Linked DNA regions of Homo sapiens: region 2 is linked to region 1. Evidence: fine-mapped expression QTL. A gene starts in region 1. The other region holds a variant in brackets. All regions are shown on one strand. Distances are between the middles of the regions.

What was found. PIP is the estimated chance that this variant, and not a neighbour inherited with it, causes the effect.
Region 2: its variant is fine-mapped to the expression of VPS26A in whole blood (INTERVAL, PIP 0.92).

Annotation. Positions count from the first base shown.
Region 1 is chr10:69,120,670-69,128,669 of GRCh38, reverse strand. VPS26A (VPS26 retromer complex component A) reads right to left here and starts at 4,492. Exons shown (of 9, transcript NM_004896.5): 1 at 4,390-4,492. The coding sequence starts at 4,392. RefSeq lists enhancers at 3,528-4,034, 4,899-5,258 and a silencer at 4,239-4,638.
Region 2 is chr10:69,174,703-69,182,702 of GRCh38, reverse strand. It overlaps SUPV3L1 (Suv3 like RNA helicase), which reads right to left and starts at 2,469. Exons shown (of 15, transcript NM_003171.5): 1 at 2,141-2,469. The coding sequence starts at 2,411. RefSeq lists an enhancer at 2,385-2,754. The variant G/A (reference allele first, on the strand shown) is at 3,395.

The sequences.
Region 1 (8,000 bases):
CTTAAAAGAAAAATGAGATTTGAAAACTATAAAAATTGTTTTACAGAGAAAAGGAAATATTATAACTTTTTTCCACATGCATATACCTAAACACACAGAGTTCCACTTGGGATTTGAAAGCTGACATTAAAAGATCAAATCGCCAGGCGCGGTGGCTCACGCGTGTAATCCCAGCAGTTTGGGAGGCCGAAGCAGGAGGATCACAAGGTCAGGAGATCGAGACCATCCTGACTAACACGGTGAAACCCCATCTCTACAAAAACAGAACAAATTTGCCAGACGTGGTGGCATGCACTTGTAGTCCCAGCTATGCGGGAGGCTGAGGCAGCAGAATCGCTTGAACCCAGGAGGCAGAAGTTGCAGTGAGCCGAGATCTTGCCACTGCACTCCAGCCTGGGCGACAGAGTGAGATTCTGCCTCAAAAAAAAAAAAAAAAAAATCAAATCCCAAAGTTAAATAAAATTTTGATAGAACTAAAATTGCCACCAATTAAAATGGTATAAACCAAGTTCATTTTATAAAATTTCACAATTAACACCATAATGATAAACAGTGTTTTGACACCATTCCTTAAATATTTAAATTCCTAACCATTAAAAATATGTGAAAAACTACGTGCTATCCTCTATTATTTTCTGGATGCAAGAAATATTTCATAATTTTAAAAAAAGTAGCAGAACACAGTGGCTCACACCTGTAATCCTAGCACTTTGGGAAGCTGAAGCAGGAGGATCACTTGAGCCCAGAAGTTCAAGACCAGCTTCGTCAATACAGCTAGACCCCCATATCTACAAAAATTTAAAAAATTAGCCCAGCATAGTGGTGTGTGCCTGCAGTCCCAGCTACTTGGGAGGCTGAACCCAGGAGGTCGAGGCTGCAGTAAGCCACTGACTGGGCGGCAGAGCAAGAGCTTGTCTCAAAAAAAAAAAAAAAAAAAAAAAAGATATTTTTAAATACAATCAAAACACTAAAATTGGAAGCAATCAAATGGCATTTTTAAAAAGCCTAGTATAGCATATGCAAAAAAGTAATAGGTTGAGTAATAAATTACTGCACTTTAACCAGTTATTCCATGACAATATGGCATTGGGTTAACATTCAGGTTTTTTTTTTTTTTGAGATGGAGTCTCGCTCTTTCGCCCAGGCCGGAGTGCAGTGGCGCTAGCTCGGCTCACTGCAAGCTCCGCCTCCCGGGTTCATGCCATTCTCCTGCCTCAGCCTCCCGAGTAGCTGGGACTACAGGTGCCCGCCACCGCGCCTGGCTAATTTTTCGTATTTTTAGTGGAGACGGGGTTTCACCGTGTTAGCCAGGATGCTCTTGATCTCCTGACCTCGTGATCCGCCCGCCTCGGCCTCCCAAAGTGCACCACGCCCGACCAACATTCAGTTTTTTTACATTAGGGCATATCGAAAATGAACTAGTCAGCCAGGCACAGTGGCTCACACCTGTAATCCCAACACTTTGGGAGGACAAGGCGGGCGGATCACTTGAGGTCAGGAGTTTGAGACCAGTCTGGCCAACATGGCGAAACCCCGTCTCCACTAAAAATACAAAAAAAAAAAAAAAAAAAAAAAATTGGCCGGGTGTGGTGGCGCATTCCTGTAGTCCCAGCTACTCAGGAGGCGGAAGTTGCAGTGAGCCAAGATCGCGCCACTGCACTCCAGCCTGGGCGACAGAGCGAGACTCCGTCTCAAAAAATAATAATAATAATAAAAGAACTAGTCTTACTAAAAAACACCTCCAGAAAATTGTGGATATCTTACATTTTACAGGTAGAGAACAAAAAGAAAAAAATAACTGAGGAAAAAAGCTTGTCTTTTAGAAAGAACTGAAAGAGAAAGATCTCTACCCAAAGTCTCTCTTTCAAAGTTTTTTCTAAGATGTGCAACTTCTGTCATTTGAAATAAAGGGTAATGAAATTAAATTCTTTTTCTAATTATTCTAAATAAAATTCTAATACTTCTGATATGTTAAAGAGGAAGTAAAATACACAACTGTCAAGCTGGTAAAGACTAGAAGGAAAGAGAATAAAATTTGTTGAGGGTTAGGATATGATGCAGACAGCAATTCAGTTTTGAGATTTTTTTTTTTTTTTTTTTTTTTGAGACGGAGTCTCACTCTGTCGCCAGGCTGGAGTACAGCAGCGCGATCTCGGCTCACTGCAACCTCTGCCTCCCGGGTTCAATTGATTCTCCTGCCTCAGCCTCCTGAGTAGCTGGGATTACAGGTGTGCGCCACACCTAATTTTTTTATTTTTAGTTGAGACGGAGTTTCACCATGTTGGTCAGGCAACTTCCGCCTCCCGAGTAGGTGGGACTACAGCAATGCGCCACCACACTTGGCCAATTTTTTTTTGTTTTTGTATTTTTAGTGAAGACGGGGTTTCGCCATGTTGGCCAGGCTGGTCTCAAACTCCCGACTTCAAGGTGATCCGCCCACCTCGGCCTCCCAAATTGTTGGGATTACAGGTGTGAGCCACCGCACCCCGTGAGATCTTTTAAGTGCAAAAATACTACTCACTTCTTTTGGTAAAGATATCTTCAAGGGCGCATTTGGAATATTGCGATTTTCAGGATTAACTATTAATATGCAAGTTAAAACTCTTGAGCTTTTAAATAACTGGACTGCAATATATATGACTATAAAAACATGCTAGCAATTGTTTTTATAGTTTTCTAATCTTGGCCTAAACCTCCTATCACTGACTTTAGGTTAATTTAGGATTTTTCATATAATTTCTGAACCCAATATTGAGCATTACCAATTAGCAAAAATACATGGTAGATACATAAAAAGGCAACTTTTTAGTCCCCACTGAAGGAATTTCACTAAGTCCAGTGGATGTAAAGAAATGCAACTCATTGCATTTCTGAGGTGGAAGGCTGACTCTCAAAATTCATTCACTTAGCCCATACACAAGCAATGAAACAGCAAATTTTCATACATATATTACATCTGTGACCATTTCAGTGTTTTAAAGTTTTACAATTTAGTTTCTGTTTGGGTAACTTGAAAATATAAACTGCTCTTGAACATAATTCAAAAAAGCGTATTAAAAGTAATAATTACAAATGTAAGCAAAAAATAGGAGGACCTTTTAAGTTTTCTTTTCAAATGATATTCAATTAAAGAAGCCTGCCCTAACACTGACTAGGCAAGGTCCCCCAATACTTCCTTCTTAGTATCTGTCACAATTCTAATTTCCACGTTAAACAAATAATTTACACAAATAAATGTTTATCTCTCCCTACATTGTAAGCTACGAGAGCAGGTAGGCGCTGTTTCCATTTTACTGGGGTCCCCTAGGCACACCTGAGCAATTATTTGTTGAATGAAAGAAAAAAAGCTCTAAGAATGAACATGAATGTCTGGATTTTGTTTTGTTTTGTTTTGAAAGCAACATCATTACTGAAATTAAAAGTTATTTATTCAAAGTAGCTTTTTAAAAATATACCTGGCTCGGCCTTTTAAGCCAAAAGTCTCAAGCAGTCTATTGAATCAGTGAGCTTTGGGAAGAGCAGGTAGTATTAGGAGAGCATACAGTAGGCGCTAAATGAAGAGAACTGACGACTACTACCAGAAAATGGGTAAAATGAGATCTAACCTAGAGACTGCCGACACCCAGCTAAATACCACAATGCCCAGGCTAGTGCTTCCGCGGACTGTGGTGAGAGCACTGATTCCCCTCCCTCCTCTGCCTCATAGGCCGTTTCAACAACCCAGAGCGTTAAGTTCAGCGAAATAGCTTGCGGACGGAAATGAGAGCCAATGCTTAAAACGGCGGGCACCAAACGGGTGTCTCTGGAGTTAAAGATATCCCCCATTCCAACGTCCTTTTATTTTTCTCTCCCATTTTACAAGTGTCAACAGAAAGCCTGAACTGGGGTCATGAAATCAAAGAATGTCACCATAGTCAGGTTTTAAAATATCAGAGTTTATCAAGTTCGTGACACACTGAGTGCCCAAGTCCCCCGAAGAGTCCGGAGGTGGGGGGCTCCCGGGTCGCCCCACCTGGATGGAAGAGAGGCTGCCCGGGAGGAGAACAGGGACTGGCTACCTAGGAAGGGGAGGCGGCGACCAGCCCCCGCAGAGGCGGGGTCCGAGTCCCCAGCCAGAGCCCCAACAAGCAGTCGAAGAACGCGGGCAGAGGCTCCGACATGGCCAGGAGAGCACGCCGCCGCCCGTAGGTGCTCGGGCCTCGCCGAGACCGGGAAGAGGTGGCGCCGCCAGCTTTTCCCAGACCCAGGGGTGGCCCGACAGGCCTAACCCCGCTCCCCGCCCTGCTCCCCCGTCCCCTCCTCCGGCGACGCCCGGCCCGCGGTTGGCCGGCCCGCCGCGCGCTCCGGGACGAGGGCGGGAGGCGAGCGCGCTGGCCGCCGCGCACTCACCATTGTCAACGCCGCCGCCGCGTCCCCCCTACTCCACTCCTCTTCCCTCAGGAGAACTCCCAGCCCCGGCTCCCTCCGCTCCGGCGCTCCGTCACGTGACCTCGGGCCGCCCCTCACACGTGACCGCTCCCTTCCTCTCCCCCACCCCCGCACCCGTCCCTCTCCCAGCCTCCTGCCCCGCCCTGCTGGCCGCCAGGCACTCCGGGGAGAGGCCGCTTGGAGGCGGGGCCTCAGGCTCCACCCTTCGGAGGGTGGAGAGGGGCGGGCAAATTACGTCGAGTGGGCGGGGCCTGAACAGAGGCGGGTTCGCGGGCTCCTCCTCGCCGTCTCTTCGGTCACCGGACGAGCGGTTCCGTGTCCGGCCTCTTTACCGCACCCAGTTCCTCTTTGTGAAAGTTTGAGCGGCTGGGAAGGAAGGAGGAGAGGAAGGATTCATCTGGAGGCTCTCTCCTTGGCTGGGTCCTTGGGTTGCCGAGGCGAGTGGGAGCCCTACTTCCTTAGGCCTCGCAAGAAGAGATGTGCTCTCTTCGTCCACGGCGAGGCGTTCTGCCACCTTGCCTGAACGCAGTCCCGCTCCACCTCCTTCTGAGTCTGGGTTTTCTTAACTTGGCTTTCTCGCCTCTGAAGAGAAGACCAGTAGAAAAAAATCCTAGGGTACAACTTTCATTGCTTCCCAAAGTCCCCAGATGGCCCCTGAGCGACCCACCCTGAGCCTGGAGGGCTCACAAACCCACCGTTCCGCCCAGCCGTTCTGAGAGGGCAAAGGCGCTCCCCCGAAAGTCCCACGGCGCAGCTGAAGACTACGCTGGCCTGAACTGGATCCTCCTCCCTAGTGTAAGCCTATAGGACCTCCAGATGAGGAAAATACTGTGTGGGATTTCAGAGTATAGTGTTGAAGGGCCACAGTGCACTCTATGCATAACCAAAGCAGAAGAAAAATCCATCCCTGAACGCACTATAATTACCCCACCTTAAAACAGAAGTTTGTGAGGCGAGTCCATGAAACAGGTATCAAAAAAAATTTTTTTATACTTAATCCTCAGTGTGAGCCTCAAATTTAAGAGGATTGAAATCAGAGTATCATCTCTAACCGCAATAGAATTAAAATTAGAAATCAACCCAAACAAGCCAGAAAATTCCGGAAATATTGGAAATTAAGCAACATAATTCCAAATCTCTAGGTCAAAGAAGAGATCAATGGAAATTTAAAAATAAGTTGAGGCCGGGCACGGAGGCTCACACTTGTAATCCCAACACTTTGGGAGGCCAAGGCAGGTGGATCACCTGAGGTCAGACACGAGTATCTCTTGAATCCGGGAAGCGGAGGTTGCAGTGCCCGAGATGGAGCCACTGCACTCCAGCCTGGGCGACAGAGCAAGACTCTGTCTCAAAAATAAAAAATAATAAAAATAAAATAATTTGAAATAAAAGATAATAATACAACATATCAAATTTGTGGAATGCAGTGACACTGTGTAAAAGGAAAATTTGTAGCTTTAAATGCACATATTTGGGCCAGGCATGGTGGCTCACAGTCTATAATTCCAGCACTTTGAGAGGCCGAGGCGGACGGATCACTTGAGGTCAGAAGTTTGAGACCAGCCTGGCCAACATGGCGAAACCCCGTCTCTACTAAAAATACAAAAATCAGCGGGGCATGGTGGTGCACGTCTGTAATCCTAGCTACTCGGTAGGCTGAGGCAGGAGGATCACTTAAACCTAGGAGGCAGAGATTGCAGTGAGCCAAGATTGCGCCACTGCACTCCAGCCTGGTGACAGAGCGAGACTCCATCTCAAAAAAAATAAATAACTATAGTAACACTGATATTGTTGTCTGTTTGAACTGTGAAAAGAAAGCAGCAAAAACAATGCAAATCTTTAATTAATAAAAGTGAAAAATGGTTTTTTTCACTTAGAAGATTTGCCTGTCACCTTGAGAGCTACTCTGGTTCCTACCCACTCTTTTCTGGGACTTAAATATCAACATAACAAAGAGAATAGATGAAAATGCCACACAGGCAAAGAAATACTAGCGAAGCCAGGTATAAATAAGAGGTGGCAAAGAAAGTCACACTAGAAACCAATTTGTACTAATTATTTATTCTACTGATCAAAACCCAATCAATAATTGTGCTATCATAATAAATACAAGAAGCAACAGAATTGTTGAGCTAGTTATTTGTCTGTCTGCCTACCTATCAATCTATTCAGCAAGCCAGAATGTTAGAGCTAGATTGTGAGCAGTACAGTGTTTCACCAGCTGAGAACTGTGGCATCTCTATATTTGCCCTCTGCCAAAAAAAAAAAAAAAAAAAAGGTGGGGTGTGTGAGGAAAATGTGACTAACTTACAGGGATTGACTTTCATCAACAAAAGTACCGAGTTTAGGTCAGAAAGTATTAGATGATAAGATAATCTGAGCTTTTATCAATCAGAAACCAGTTAAGAGAAAAATAGTCATTTGTTCAAATTCACAAAGACTAAAAATTCACATTAATAACTGTGAGAGTGTCAGGGAGCAGCTGTTTGCAGAGTTCACTGGCAAAGTTAAGGGAAGAGAATAAAATACAAATACACAAAAAGGATAAAGAAAGAAAATACAATTTAGGCCGGGCGCAATGGCTCACACCTGTAATCCCAACACTTTGGGAGGCTGAGGTAGGTGGATCACTTCAGCCCAGGAGTTTGAGACCAGCCTGAGCAACATGGTGAGACCTTGTCTCTTGCAAAAGAACAAAAATTAGCTGGGAGTGGTGGCATGTGCCTATTGGACCAGCTGCTCAGGAGGCTGAGGTGGGAGGATAGCTTGAGCCAGGGAGGCAGAGTTTGCAGTGAGCAGAGATTGCACCACTGCACTCCAGCCTGAGCAACAGAGCGAGACCCTGTCTCAAAAAATAAATAATAAATTAATTTAATTTAAAAATAAAATACAATTTAAAGCATGCCAGTGAAGTATAGAAACACTTTTTTCTTTTAACCTCCCAGAGCACATAGAATAGATTTTGCTTAAAAACTTTAGCGAGTGCAGCTGTAATCATGGTAAATATTCTTTTTTTAAAAAATTACAATTATAAAAGCCAAACATTTTTTCACAATATACAGTTTTTTCTTAAATGTACCAATACTTAATGTTTTATCTCACTATTCCTCTTTTCTTTTTAAAATGAGATATAATGTACATACAGTGACATATGTTAGTCTTAAGTGTGCAGTTTGATCAGTTTTGACAATTGCATACATTTTGATTGTGCATGGTGTCACAGGGCGCCGTGGCTCATGTCTATAATCTCAGCACTTTGTGAAGCCAACACAGGAGGATTGCGTGAGGCCAGGAGTTCAAGGCTGCAATGGTCGTGTCGCTGCACTCCAGCCTGGATGGTGGAGCAAGACCCTAGTCTCTAGAAAAAATTTAAAAATTATCCAGGTGGTGGGGCATGCCTGTAGTCACAGCCGCTCAGGAGGCTGAAGCGGGAGAATTGCTTGAGTCCAGGAGTTCCAGGCTATAGTGAACCACACTGGTGCGACTGCACTCCAGTTTGGGCTACAGAGCCAGGCCCTGACTCTTAAAAAAAAAGCATACATTTGTTTAACCCACACCTTCATCAAGATATA
Region 2 (8,000 bases), 54 kb before region 1:
TAAATTCAACATCTGGACCAATCCCAGTCAAAGGAGATGAAAAATCACCTGGCACACAGACCCAATGAAGTATCTAAGGATTCTCCACCAGAAGAAAATCTAGTGCTGACAAACCCATGTCTTTATTCTATCTTCTTACAGGAAGCAGCAAAGACATTTACATTTTCAGGTGAATTGGAATAGCTGCAGAAAATAAGAATTTATCAATATTTGAATACAATAAGGCAAATTATCTCATCCAAATTACCTTATGCCTTCAAATAATATAAAATAATGGAAAATTGTTCTTTAATGGGTAAACTATTGTTTGAGTTTCAACTCTGCAAGATGAAAAAGTTCTCATCTATTTCGCGACAATGTCAATATACTTAACGCTAGTGAACTATGTGCTTAAAAACAATTAAGACTGGCTGGGTGCAGTGGCTCAGGTCTGTAATCTCAGGGCTTTGGGAGGCCATGGCAGGAGGATCCCTGGAGCCCAGAAGTTTGAGACCAGCCTGGGCAACATAGCAAGACCCCATCTCTACAAAAAATTAAAAAATTATCCAGGCATGGTGATGCACGCCTGTATTCCTAGCTACTTAGAAGGCTGAGCCAGGAGGATTGCTTGAGTCTGGGAGTTGGAGGTTACAGTGAGCTATGATCATACCACTATACTCCAGCTTGGGTAACAGAGCAAGACCCTGTCTCTAAAAAAAAAAAAGTAAAGAAAAAAAAACTAAAAAAAAGCTTAAAAGAGTAAATTTTATGTATTTTTATAATTTAAAAATAAATAATAGTATAATTACATTATTAAAATAACACATTCTCTGCTATGGTTTGAATGTCTTCTCCAAGACTCATATTGAAATTTAATTGCTATTTTAACAGTTGAGAGGTGGAACCTTTAAGAGGTGATTAGGACATGAGGAGTTTGCCTTTGTGAGTGGATTAATGCCATTATCACAGGAGTCAGTTATCACAGGAAAAAAGGATAAGTTCAGCCCCCTTTCTCTGTCTCACAGGCTCATTTGCCTTTCCACCTTCCACCATGTGATGATGCAGCCAAAGGCCCTCATCAGATCCCGGCTCAGAACCATGAGTCAAATACACCTCTATTGTTTATAAATTACTCAGTCTCAGGTATTATGTTATAACAGCAGAAAATAAAGACAGTCTCCCAGCACCAAGTAAAGTGAAAGGCCTTGCTTAACACTGGAAGAATATGTCAAAGAATAACATATACTGTGAGTTCCATCACATGTTTAGTGAAAGTACTGTACTTCTGCTCTGAAAAACATATTGTAGTCTATATTTTAGATTTACAATAGGAGGCACCAATGTCGCTTGTTGAAGTGAGACATTTCTCCTCCTATTCCTGGAGACAATTCTGGATAGCATTTCCTCAATCTCCCAGTTTCATATGGTCAGAGGAAACTCCCTTACCTCCCTAATCATCCCGAAACTCACCTTGAAAACATTCACATGCCTCTCTGTCAACGAATCCATCCAAACTTAAGTTTTGCTGAGCAAAGCCCGCTGCCACTAACTGATGCTACCTCTTCTTTTCTCTCTGGAGCCGGGGACACCCTACCTTGTTCTAGACCTTGTCATGTTCTACCTTGTATTACAGTTCACTTTCCATACACGTGTCCTCCCCCACGATACCGTTACGTTTCTTAAGAGGGGATCTGGATCTGAGTCTGGTTCCTCTTGGCAACCACCACACAGCCTAACAGCGTGGTATGAGTCGGCGCCTCCTCAATGATAAAGAATCCTAAAAGGAGTCTCCGCTGGCTTTTCACTGCCACATCCCATTCGGGGGTGGGAGAGAAACAAAGAATGCAAGAAAGAGCGGGCGTCCACCTAACAACTCAAAAAAGTCAAATCTTCCCAACACATGAGTGTCTAAACCATTCAGAGAGCAGGGCAGTAAAAGGGAAAAGGCCGCTTCTGGGACGAGGCGTTAAGAATTAATCAGATACAGTCCTAAGCCGTTTGAGGGGCTCACACACCAGCGAAGGAGGCAGACACTGAGAGGCACGATGACAACACTCGATGGGACCTCGGATCCCCAGGGGAAGGGGATGTAGCTTCCTCCCAACCAGCCTCGGCCCAGCAGACACCACCCTCTGCCGCCCTCAGTAGTTCCCGCACTCACTCTTGTCCAGAGGCCGGGTTAGCTCGGCCCCGACGTCGCCGTCGGCGCTGGGGCCCTGAGGTTTCACAGTCAGGGGCACGAACAAGGACGTGTTTGGTATTTTGGAGCCACCGGAGGCAGAGGAGGAGGCGGTGGCAAGGACAGAAACTTGCCCCAGAACCCCGGGAAAGGGCCCAAAGTGGGGACGAAGGGCAGAGCAGATGGCTGCCCGGTGGCCAGCCTGGCGCCCCGCCGGGAGCCGAGCCCACAATAGGGCACGGGAGAAGGACATCGAGGCCGCAGGTTCTACACTGTCTGGCGCAGCCGCGGACACGGCGGCGGACAGTGACGCGCACCTCCAGCGCCTGCTGTCCAGAAAGACCCAGGCCGAGCAGGTAAGCTGCCCGGGAAAACGCCTGACCGTTAAGGAAAACGCCGTGCCGTGAGGGTGTTCTTTCAGGGAAAAAGAAGATTAGCAGGCAAAACCACTAGAGATAATTCTCGTTCTCTTTCTCTGTTTTGTTGGTGATTGGGACCACCTTTCCCTAAAGAAGGGAAAATAATCAGGCATCTTTGGGATGTCATACATGAGCGGAGGGGGCCTGCTAGTCGTGTCACGTGATGCAAACTAGTACTTTGGTAAGCAAGTGTCCAGAAGCACGTGGGTGAGCAGTGAGAGAATGGGTGGTGGAGCAGCAACTGCGAATGCTCAGGGTACGAGTATGTCTTGCGGACTCAAACACTAAATAGCATTTCCCAAAAGTTTCTTGCATTGTTAACCGTCATTTCCTGATATGATAACGTTAGCGATAATAACTTGATATGCCCCTCAGAAATGTTGCTAAGAAATATTGTTGCACTATTAAACCCCTTGTATTACGTAAGTACTTTTGCTTTAATGTGAGCAGTTTGCGTACATCATCCTAGCAGCTATGACCACATAGTTGTGACCACATGGCAAAAATACGTGCTCTGTACCCCAGCCATAGTTTCGTTCCATTGCATTTGTTGAATACCGTGTTCTCATGTGAGGCTGCAACATGTTAAATTCACAAGTTTAACCCGGGCGTGGTGGTTCACGCCTGTAATCGCAGCACTTAGGGAGGGCGAGGCCGGTGGATCATCTGAGGTCAGGAGTTCGAGACCAGCCTGGCAAACATGGTGAAATCCCCTCTCTACTAAAAATACAAGAATCAGCCGGGCGTGGTGGTGCACACCTGTAATCCCAATTACTAGGGAGGCGGAGGCAGGAGAATCGTTTGAACCTGGGTGCCA[G/A]AGGTTGCAGTGAGCCGAGATCGGGCCACTGCTCTCCAGCCTGGGCAACAGAGTGAGACTCCGTCTAAAAAAAAAAAAAATTCACAAGTTTAGCATCTCCATCCACATCTCTTTATACTTACATCATTAAGATCTTACAACTTGAAGGAACGTGTTATGTAATATACAATACTGTATGTCTAATAGGATTCCAGTAACAATTTGCCACGTGCCTTTGATTCACAAAATAATTTTTAAACATCAGGGATACAAGGAGACAGTCCTTTGCTTTCAAAGGTTCTGATCTGGTTTTGGTGGTAAGAACAGTACACGTTAAATAATGCACTTATTACTCTAATAGACTAATGGCAGTTCAAAGAAAGGAGCAATTTGAGAGTGGTAAGGAGATTTCTGCCAGACTTAAAAGTAAAACATAGAGAAGCGGTAAGTAAATTCTAGTCAGTGGAAACGATGTAAGCAGAGGCTTAACTAAGGAAAAGACATACTGAAAAAAATTTAAGTAACAGAGTTAACGCAGACCTAATTCTATGGCTTACAAATAGTGATTATATTTTTGAGAAGAGAAATCATTCATTAGGAAGTACCTAGGATAGACTAGGATAAACACAAATATGCAGGGAGGAAAATTACAACTTTATCAACAGTTCTAGCTGAAGGTGGTAGATTCCTGTGTCTGAGTTATGATGGAGACCATGTATGTGGAATGAGAGGTTTTACAAGACTCCTTAGATAATGTAGTGAGTGACTAAATATGCTAGAAAATGTTAATAAACAATGATGTCTCGTCAGATTTGGAAACTAGGAGAATGAAGGATAAACCAAACGTTTAATACGTAACTGAGGCAAGCACTATGTTGTTCCTTTTAATCTTTTAATATGCTTGACAACAATTTAGAGGTATTATTGTCACCAGGTTAACTAACTTGCCCCAGTAAGTGGTAGAGTCAGATACAAATCTAAATCTTTTTTTTTTCTTTTTTTTGAGACAGTCTCACTCTGTTGCCCAGGCTGAAGTGCAGTGGTGCAATCATAACTCACTGCAACGTCCACCTCCCAGGCTCAAGCAATTCTCATGCCTCAGCCTCCCGAGTAGCTGGGACTACAGGCTTGCACCACAATACCTGGCTAATTTTTGTATTCTCTTTAGTTTCACCATGTTGGCCAGGCTGGTCTCAGAACTCCTGGCCTCAAGTGATCCAGCTGCCTCGGCCTCCCAAAGTGCTGGGATTACAGGTGTGAGCCACCGTGCCCAGCCAGTCTTTCTGATTTCAAAGCAAATAGGTGGGCTTTTTGGACAGGAGCAGCATATTAGGCCAGAATCAACATTTGTACGAGTCTTTTTTTTTCTTTGGAAGGGTGATCGTGAACTCCTGGGCTCAAGCAATCCTGTGTCAGCCTCCTGAGTAACTGGAACTACAGGTGCATGCCACAGCACCTGGCAGTTACTAGTCTTACAGATCTAGCCCAACCCTAGTATAGTTTTACAGAAAAAAAAAATCCTCAAAACTATTTTAACTGTAATTTTGTTTGCACCTCCTTGCAGGTAGAAAATGCAATCTGAATTTTATGATAGCACATACAGGCTTTCCCTTTCAGCCATTCATTAAGTTCTACTATAAACATTGAAATGGGAAAATTCAATATAAAATTTTTGCTTTTACAAAAAAAGATGTCATATCTATACTGGTTATGTCATATTTATAGCAGTAAGTGTAATCAGCACCTAACACATATTAGAGCCTCTATAAATGTTTTATTTTGCTTGTTGAATGGATTAATGCAGTAACTATGTAACTGGTATCCTCCTATACTTTGCCGTAGCACCATAATGATCTTTTGAAAACACAAATCTGGTAAGTTACTCCTGCTTAGAGTCCTTTGGTGATTCTGAATAAATGTTCAGATAAAGCCCATATTCCATCGTATGGCATCCAGGTTCTGTCCTAAATTGGTTGGCCCTATATGCCTCTTCCAGCTTTATTTCTACTCCCCACATCTACCATTCTATTCATGCTGGAACTATACACCAGTTATATCATCGTTTCTTACCTCTGCACCTCTGAACACACTGGGTGCTTCTCTTACATATCACAGGTCCCAGTAGAGGCTCTATCATAGAATGAAAACTATCGTAATTGTGTCTCTGGGTCAGTGGTTCTTAAACGTTAGAGTGCAACAAGATTGTTGGGCCCCATCCCTGAAGTTTCTGATTCAGTAGATCTGGAGTGGGATCTGAGAGTTTACATTTCTAAAACATTTCAGATGATGCAACTCTGCTGGTCTGAGACCACACTTTTGAGAACCACTGCTCTGGATTAAAGTTCCTTCAGGATAGGGCCAAGATAACACTTACTCCATTTTGCATTGCTATAACAGAACACCACAGACTGAGTAATTTGTAAAGAAAATGAATTTATTTCTTTTAGTTCTGGAGGCTAGGAAGTCCAAGATCAAGAGGCTGGCATCTGGTGATGGCCCTCTTGACATAACCTGGTAGAAGGCATCACATGGCCAGAGAGCAAGACCTGTGTGTCAACTCAGGTTTCTCTTTTCTTACGAAGCCACCAGTCACATCATGGGGGACCCACACTGAGAACTTTTATCTAATCCTAATTACTTCCCAAAGGCCTCACCTCCAATCAATATATGAATTTGATGATTAAGTTCCAACACAAAAAATTTAGGGGACACATTCAAACCATAGCAAGCACTAACTGATAGTCTGTAAATATGCTAAATCCATGCATGAATACGGAAATAAATAGAAGGGGAAAGGAAGTGGGAGAAGATAACCTAGGTGGCAGAAATAATACAAGTTAATTTCTTCTTCGCCTTTGCTTTTGCTGTTTTTTGTTTTTTGTTTTTTGTTTTTTTTTTTGAGACGGAGTCTTGCTCTGTCACCAGGCGGGAGTGCAGTGGCGCAATCTCGGCTCACTGCAAGCTCTGCCCCCTGGGTTCATGCCATTCTCCTGCCTCAGCCTCCCGAGTAGCTGGGACTACAGGCGCCCGCCACCACGTCCGGCTAATTTTTTTTGTATTTTTAGTAGAGACGGGGTTTCACCGTGTTAGCCAGGATGGTCTCGATCTCCTGACCTCATGATCCACCCGCCTCGGCCTCCCAAAGTGCTGGGATTACAGGCGTGAGCCACCGCGCCCGGCCTGCTTTTGCTATTAACAAAATCTGGTGTAGGTTTCACAAAAGCACATCCTGTAGATTACTCTCTCATACCTTGTCTACCAAATTTTGTAAGTTGAAGTTTCTAGTATTTTTCTGACATTAAGGTTATCATGATCTAGACGCTAAACTGTTGCTTATCCTAAGTGAACTTTTAAGATTTACTCTTGGCCGGGCACGGTGGCTCACGCCTGTAATCCCAGCACTTTGGGAGGCCAAGACAGGTGGACCACGATGTGTCCAGAGTTTGTTCCTTCCAGTGGGTTCGTGGTCTTGCTGATTTCAAGAATGAAGCTGTGGACCTTTGCAGTGAGTGTTACAGCTCTCAAAGGTGGCATGGACCCAAAGAGTGAGCAGCAGCAAGATTTATTATCGTGAAGAGCGAAAGAACAAAGCTTCCACAGCATGGAAGGGGACCCAAGCGGGTTGCTGCTGCTGGCTGGGGGCTGGGGTTGGGGGGTGGCAGCCAGCTGTTATTCCCTTATTTGTCCCCCACCCATGTCCTGCTGATTGGCCCATTTTACAGAGTGCTGATTGGTCCATTTTACAGAGCACTGATTGGTCCATTTTACAAATCTCTAGCTAGCCACAGAGAGCTGATTGGTGCATTTTACAAACCTCTAGCTAGCTAGAGTGCCAATTGGTGCGTTTTACAATCCTAGCTACAGAGTGCTGATTGGTGCATTTTACAATCCTCTTGTAAGACAGAAAAGTTCTCCAAGTCCCCACCCGACCCAGAAGTCCAGCTGGCTTCACCTCTCAGTGAGGTCAGGTGATCGAGACCATCCTGGCTAATAAAGTGAAACCCCATCTCTACCAAAAATACAAAAAATTAGCCAGGCATGGTGGCACGTGCCTGTAGTCCCACCTACTCGGGAGGCTGAGGTAGGAGAATCCTTTGAACCCAGGAGGCAGAGGTTGCAGTAAGCCGAGATTGCACCACTGCATTCCAGCCTGGGCGACAGAGCAAGACTCCATCTCAAAATTAAAAAAAAAAAAAAAAAAAAGATTTAGTGTTAGAGTCATGAAATGTTAGAGCTGGAAGGGATGGGGCACCTGTCAGACACATTTGTAGAACTTGTACAGATGGTACCCATGTGGTCCTGCTCTGTCTTGCTTTCTTTCCGGGGCATAATACCACTCCTGGAAAACCTTTGCTTTATTCTAATACTGAGCTGCATAACAGTTCTAATCCATAACTGTGTTATATTTTAGACCTGTATTTTTTTTCTAAATGAGAGCATCTTTAATTTTATAATCACTTGTTTTTGAAATCCCTTAGCTGTCTAAAAGCCTGGGCTCTCAAAAGAGCTAAAAAATCCCCTTCCCGGGAGCAACCAGGAAAGACTGACTTTTATCCTGAGACAATAAATGGGTACCACACGTGAACAGACATTGTAACAAAATTTTATCTTCCATCTATTTTCATAA